Homo sapiens: one gene and its partner. The protein of the gene in region 2 purifies or fractionates together with the protein of the main gene of each other region. This does not show direct contact. Each region holds a gene or a part of one and is shown on either strand. Other genes may lie near its edges.

Region 1 (3,500 bases), on a different chromosome or scaffold from region 2:
CCGTCCCAGCCTCCCGCGGGAAGGAAAGGACATGTCAGCCGTTGGGTCAGGACAAAACCCTGGGCCAGACTCAGCGCCCACGCCCTCTCACTGGGTCCTGCCGCCGCCCACTGCTGAGGAAACACGAGCCGGCTTACGGTCAGCCTGTCGAAGAGGTCGTCCCGGGGGTCCTTGTTCTCCATAAAGAGCTGTAAGTTCTTGTACACCTGAAGGAGAAAGAAGGAATTTCAGAGGACAGAAAAAACCCGAATCCAGTGAGGACCTGAAGGGCGTCTACGCAGAGCCTGGGAGCCCACGGGAGGCTTCCCTGAGGAAGGTGGCCCGAGCAGCATCACCGTCACCTGTCGGCATCCTCCCGTGACACGGCCCCCACCCTCCAGTGTGGCAGTCACCGCTACCACACGCACAGGCAGCGTGCTCAGGAGGTGGGCGTGACTCCTGCCCTGCAAACCCCCTGGGTGACCGCGGCAGGTGGCCCAGAGTCCCCGGCTCCTTCTTCCATCAATGCCGGATTTCCACCAGGTGAGCCCACACCCTTGTAATGTGAGACACTCATCTGACATCACAGGACCTCAGGGCCTTCGGGGTTCCTGTGTCCAACCTCCCTCCACCAGTCCCTTTGGGGAGAGGACATTAATTCCCTTCTGGAAAGACCAACCCTGCTCCGAGGAAACGCCAGCCTGCACCTGCACCCATGCCTGCCCTCCCCTCAGTTTCACCTGCTGGTCCTCCTACAAGTGGCAGGCACCCTCCCTGAGCGCTGGGCATCGGCTCCAGGGCGGAGGTTGCTGTGGCCTCTGTGTTGCTCTCTCCAGCACCAGCATGGCAGCCCTCCCTCACCAGACACGGGCAGGAGGCCCCGCACCCCCAACTGGCCCCCTCATCAGCCTGGCACCATGGCTGATGAACCCCATTCTACAAACCCACAGGCACCGGGACATGGCGGGAAGCCCCAGCCCACAGCTCCCGACTTCTGGCTTCTTCCCTCATCTTCCTCTACACGTTTGGTTTCACACCGCTGATCTTGACGAGGCTTTATGTCCCGCCTTTTTCTCTACATCACATGCATTCCGTTACCGAGTGCTCCCCTGGACAGCACTGCAAATGGCTGGCTAGTCCTCTGTCTGGACAGAGTGCAACTCCCCATCCAGGCCTGCACCACAGCCGATGCTTCACCACGGCAGGGGCACTGTGGTGAGCACCTCCTTGCCTCTTCCTTTCGTGTGTTGGCTTCTGTCTCCTACCTCCGATTAATTCATTCCTTAGGAATGACTTCCCGACCAGACTGCCTGAGGCCGGGCCCTGCCAGGGACTCCTGTTTCTCTGCTGCCCTCAACACCTGTCCCCAAACTTCCATTTCTGTTTTTCAACGGCTCCACTCCATCCCACGGTTGGGTCACATTAATTTTTTTATTTTTTTTTTTAATTTTTAGAGACTAGGTCTGGCTCTGTCACTTGGGCTGGAGTGCAGTGGCACAATCATAGCTCACTGCCGCCTCCAACTCCTGGGCTCCAGCAACCCTCCCACCTAGCCCTCCCAAGGTGTCTGGACTACAGGTGTGGGCCTTGCGCCCAGCCTGAGTCACATTTGTGCTTTTGAGGTGCAGGGAGTTCGTGCGTGGATCTGTCCAACGTCACTGCGACGTGGCGCCCACCCAGACAGGGGACACCGTGACTCTTCAGGACAGCCATTCAAAGGTGAGGATGCTCCCCAGGTTCCAGTCTTCCTTCAAGCCAGTCTGGAGACCAGAGATCTACCCAGCCCTTCCCGACCACACTCATCCCTCTGGGCATCTATGCTGGTGGAGCTAGGGGCTGTGGGGGTGGTGGGCAGCCACTAGTCCCTGCAGCAGAGGAAAGAGGGCAGCCCCTCCCAGGTGTACTGGGGTGAAAAGTGTTCCCGAAATTCATATCCTCACCAGAACCTCAGAATGTAACCTTTTTTTTTTTTTAGAACGGTCTCAGCCAGCCACAGTGGCTCATGCCTGTAATGCCAGCACTCTGGAAGGCTGAGGCAGGTAGATCACGAGGTCAAGAGTTCAACACCAGCCTGGCCAACATGGTGAAACCCTGTCTCTACTAAGAATACAAAAATCAGCTGAGCTTGGTGGCAGGCACCTGTAATCCCAGCTACTCGGGAGGCTGAGGCAGGAGAATCGCTTGAACCCAGGAGGCGGAGGTCGCAGTCAGCCAAGATCTCACCACTGTACTCCAGCCTGAGCAACAGTGCGAGACACCGTCTTGAAAAAAGAAAAAAAATTTAAAGAAGACAGGGTCTCATTTTGTCACCCAGGCAGGAGTGCAGTGGTGCCATCTTGGCTCACTGCAAGCTCCGCCTCCTGGGTTCACGCCATTCTCCTGCCTCAGCCTCTCAAGTAGCTGGGACTATAGGCGCTCGCCACGATGCCCGGCTAATTTTTTTTGTATTTTTAGTAGAGACGGGGTTTCACCATGTTAGCCAGGATGGTCTCGATCTCCTGACCTCGTGATCCACCCGCCTTGGCCTCCCAAAGTGCTGGGATTACAGGCGTGAGCCACCTTGCCCGGCTGTTTTTTTAAATTATTATTTCAGAGACAGGGTCTCATTATGTTGCCCAAGTGGTCTCAAACTCCTGGGCTCAAGTGATCCTCCCACCTCAGCCTCCCGAAGCACTGAGATTACAGGAGTGCACCACCATGCCTGGCCAGAACGTGACCTTATTTAAAAACAGGGTCTTTAGAGACTGATAAGATGAAGTCATAGAAAGAGTGGGCTGGGCCCTAACTCCAATACGACAGCGTCCTTGTGAGAACACGCAGAGGCAGAGATGCAGGGAGAAGATGGCCATGTGACAACGGAGGCAGAGACTGGGATGAGGCAGCCTCAGGCCAAGGACACGCAGGATCCGTGGCCCCACCAGATGCTGGGAAGGCAGGAGGATCCTCCCCGAGTGTGGGCGGGATGTGGCTCTGCCAGCACCTTGACTCAGACTCTGGCCCCCAGGGCTGAGCGACAATAAACGTCTGTTAAACCACTGGGTCTGCAGTGCCTTCCTCCAGCAGCCCTGGGAGATGCTCCGGCCGGGGGGCAGGAGACGAAGCTGGCGTGACACACGTGCCCTTTTCAGCCCCCGACCAGCTCCCTTGTGAACCCTTGGGTCTACCATGGTGCACAGCCTCTCCTTCACCTTTACCCCGATCAGCCCCGGCACAGCAGGCCTCACCCAGCAGGCAGGACGTGGCAAACGGGCCACAGACCCCACGGCAGCTCCGGCACGCCCCCAGACATCCAGAGCAAATACGTGTCACATAGCGGGGGCAGCTGGCGCGAGGGCACTCACCGGCTTCTCCACCGGCACTCTGTTGTAGTAGCGGATGCAGTCCTTCCCCAGGAAGTCAAATTCCACCACGTGTTGGCAGCCATCGGCCTCCGGGTGCAGCTGGACGTGCTCCACGCGGAGGGAACAGCAGCCCACGGTGTCGGCCGCCTCACCGTCCTCCTTCTCATTTCCTGCTCTCAG
Region 2 (3,500 bases):
ATTTCAAAGCTGTTATTAAAAAAAAAAAGTGAAACGTAAGCCCTCCTTCAAAAAGCAACTCAGAAGCCCATGAGGCCTGAACTCCCAGGAGCCATGGGAGAACACCGTGTGCCTTCCCGCCTTCTACCCCAGCAAGAGCCCAGCCAGCGGTGCCTCCCTCTCCTGTGTCCACAGTGTCACTCACATCTTCACAGCCCCAAGTTCTGTAAGAGTAAGGACCTGAGCATCGGTTCATCTGGCACTCCTCCCGGCATCTCATGCAGTGACCTGCTCAGTGAGAGTGTGTGGAGTTGGACTCTGCAACTGTTCTTAGAACTGAAAACTCTGCTTTCCTTTCGAAGTTAATGCACTGACAACAGCTGCAACTTTCAGGAACGTGACTGAGAAGGGAGCAGCCGACATACACTTTCATTCTTTTACTTTTGTTATTTTTTTTTTAATTTTTGAGACAGGGTCTTGCTCTGTCACCCAGGCTGGAGTGTAGTGGCGCAATCTCAGCTCACCACACCCTTGACCTCCCATGCTCAAGAGATCCTCTTGCCTCAGCCTCCTGAGTAGCTGGGGCTACAGGCATGCGCCACCATGCTCAGCTAATTTTTTTAAATTTTTTATTTGTAGAGACTGTCTCGCCATGTCCCCCAGGATGGTCTCAAACTCCAGAGCTCAAGCAATTCTCCCGCCTCAGCCTCTGAAAGTGCTGGGATTATAGGCACAAGCCACCTCATCCGGCCTCTTTTACTTTGTACACTTCTGTATTGTCCCAATGTTTTACAGTCTTTATTGCCTTTATTACGGGGAAGAAGGAAGGGAAGGAGGCAAGAAACAGAATGGTCCTTAGAAACATTGTGCCTTGGACAGAGCTTTTCTTACATCAAATTATAATAAATAAGAACCTCTCAAGATTGGAAATCAATTCAACAGTAAAGGCTTAAAAATCTGAAAAGCTGATTTTCACAATCGGAAACGTTACCTCTTCCTTGGACAAATGCCTGAATTTTGTCTGATATCGACTGAGTTCTACATTCAAACGATGGACAGTCATTTTCAATCCATCATTTTCATCCACCAGTTCTTGAGCTTGTTTTCGCAGATAAAGTAATTCAGGTGCAGCAACTAGGGAAAAAAATTTAATATTATACTATAAGAAATAACATCCAATTTATCCAGATTTTATTAAATTGCAAATCGTTTGCTTTTCTCCCCTCTTTCACGCTCAGAGGCAATGAACTGTGTGTGCGTGTGTGTCTGTGTGTGTATGTGTGTCTGTGTGTGTGAATGAATAAAAGTTACAACGTTTTTTAACACTGAATAGTTAACGTTATATTGAAAGTTTGTGGAAGTTTTTGCATGTACAATAAAGTAAAATAAAAATTTCAAGTTGGAAAGGAATAGTCATTGTTTCAGATGACATAAGAATATGTGCTTTGAAAAATCATACAGAGGCCGGGTGCGGTGGCTCACGCCTGTAATCCCAGCACTTTGGGAGGCCGAGGCGGGTGGATCACGAGGTGAGGAGATCGAGACCATCCTGGCTAACACGGTGAAACCCCGTCTCTACTAAATATACAAAAAATTAGCCGGGCGTAATGGCGGGCGCCTATATTCCCAGCTACTTGGGAGGCTGAGGCAGGAGAATGGCGTGAACCCAGGGGGTGGAGCTCGCAGTGAGCCGAAATCACGCCACTGCACTCCAGCCTGGGCAACAGAGGGAGACTCCATCTCACAAAAAAAAAAAAAGAAAGAGAAAAATCATATAGAATACATGGAAAATGTATTAGAGCTAATAACCTTCCCACATAATAGCAATGTCCTATTAGAAAACAAAACAGAAAATAGATCCCACAAGGTAACAGCACAAATAATATATAGTATCTAAAAATAAATGTGCCTAAGATAAGAATTATGCAGGGTCTATGTGAAAAAAACTGACACCACCTTACTTAAAGCTATATTAGTTTTATATAAATAGAAAAAGGTATAGAGAAAATATTGGTGAATATTTATATAACCTTAGAGTTAAAAATGACTTAATACCAAGAGTGTAAGTCATAAAAGAAAAACATTTTATTGATTTAGCCCAATTATCAACAAACTAAGAAAATATTACACCTATGACAAAGGGATAAAATCTTTCATATGTAAGGAGTTCCTGCAAATCAATAAAAAGAAGTCAAGTGTCTCATTGTAAAGTGGGCAACTTGGCCATGATAGTGGCTCATATCTAAAATCCCAGTGCTTTAAGTGGCCAAGGAGGAAAAATCCTTGAGGCCAGGAGTTTGAGACCAGCCTGGGCAACACAATGAGGCCTCACTGCTATAAAAAAAATTAAAAAAAAAAAAAACTTAGCCAGGCATGATGGCGTTTGCCTTTAGTCCCAGCTACTCAGGAGGCTGAGGTGGAAGGATCACTTGAGCCCAGGAGTTCAAGGTTATAGTGAGCTCTGACCACCCCACTGTAGTCCAACCTAGGTGACAAGAGTGGGATGCTGTCTCTAAAAAATAAATAAATAAAGTGGGCAGCTTTATGAAAGAAAAAGAAAATGACTTGCAAAGATATGAAAAAATATTCAAGTTCAATAATAACAGAAATACAAATTAAAATACTATTTCTTTTTTTAACCTATAAAAGTAGCAAGGAAAATATAATCATTGGTAAGTCTACGGTAAAGGAGGAGCTTTTTTATGCTTCTCTTAGGGATAAAAACTGAAGTGAAATATATGTAAGCTAAGCATCAAGTTCCAAAAGAAGTATTGGAATCTCTGTTTTGTTTTTGTAAATTCAGCTTCTTTCCAACCTGAGGAATTTCTTTAGTGTAATAATGATATAGCAGATGAAATCAAATCTCAACAAACATAAGGATATTAACAAAAAAACCTGAAATATTACAACATAAATTACCAACACAAATATCACAACATAAAATATTAACTCTCAAAATAATTGAGTGAAGTCCTGCTCATTCCTCTAATAAAGGCACTCTGTCTGTCCCCACCTTCCTGTGACGACGCCTTCTCAGCCTCTTTGAGCTTTCTCTTCTCTTTTTCCATTCCCTTAAGTTTTAACTGTAGTTCTTTCATTGCTTGTTTCATTGTGTTTAGTTCAAGGGTAAGGCTTTGATTCATATTGTTTAGGTCCATATTTTCTTCTTTTAATGCCTCAAACTTTTCTCTGGTTATTTCTGTATATCTTTGACGTGCTCTACCAGTTATATCTGAAAGGGTTCAGGGGAAAATTTTACAATGTTAATTGATGTTGACAATGTTACATCAAAATCAACTGACTTTGTTCCAAAAACCACATCAGGCCTGGTGCCATGTTCTTTGGTCCCTGGGAAGGGAATGGCTTCTACAGGAAACAGTAAGTGGCCTGATGAAGTCACAGCGGGTGGCAGGAAGAGAGGTACTGAGGGGAGGCCAGAAAGGGAGGCCAGAGCTGCAGGAGGCCGTGCCTATTGTGATGTGGCATGGAAAGTTCATCTTGCAGGGCAGCAGGAGCCAGCA

The links. Proteins that work in one complex are often made in the same cells at the same time.
Region 1: the proteins of CEP89 (region 2) and TOP1MT purify together in Homo sapiens (affinity purification with mass spectrometry; one large-scale study listed by BioGRID and IntAct). This does not show direct contact.

What each region holds. Positions count from the first base shown.
Region 1 is NC_000008.11:143,317,881-143,321,380, forward strand, and holds part of TOP1MT (DNA topoisomerase I, mitochondrial isoform 1 precursor), read right to left. Parts: coding exon 3,321-3,500; intron 207-3,320; coding exon 138-206; intron 1-137. UniProt on the Homo sapiens protein: Releases the supercoiling and torsional tension of DNA introduced during duplication of mitochondrial DNA by transiently cleaving and rejoining one strand of the DNA duplex.
Region 2 is NC_000019.10:32,930,459-32,933,958, forward strand, and holds part of CEP89 (centrosomal protein of 89 kDa), read right to left. Parts: intron 3,212-3,500; coding exon 2,993-3,211; intron 1,114-2,992; coding exon 971-1,113; intron 1-970. UniProt on the Homo sapiens protein: Required for ciliogenesis. Also plays a role in mitochondrial metabolism where it may modulate complex IV activity.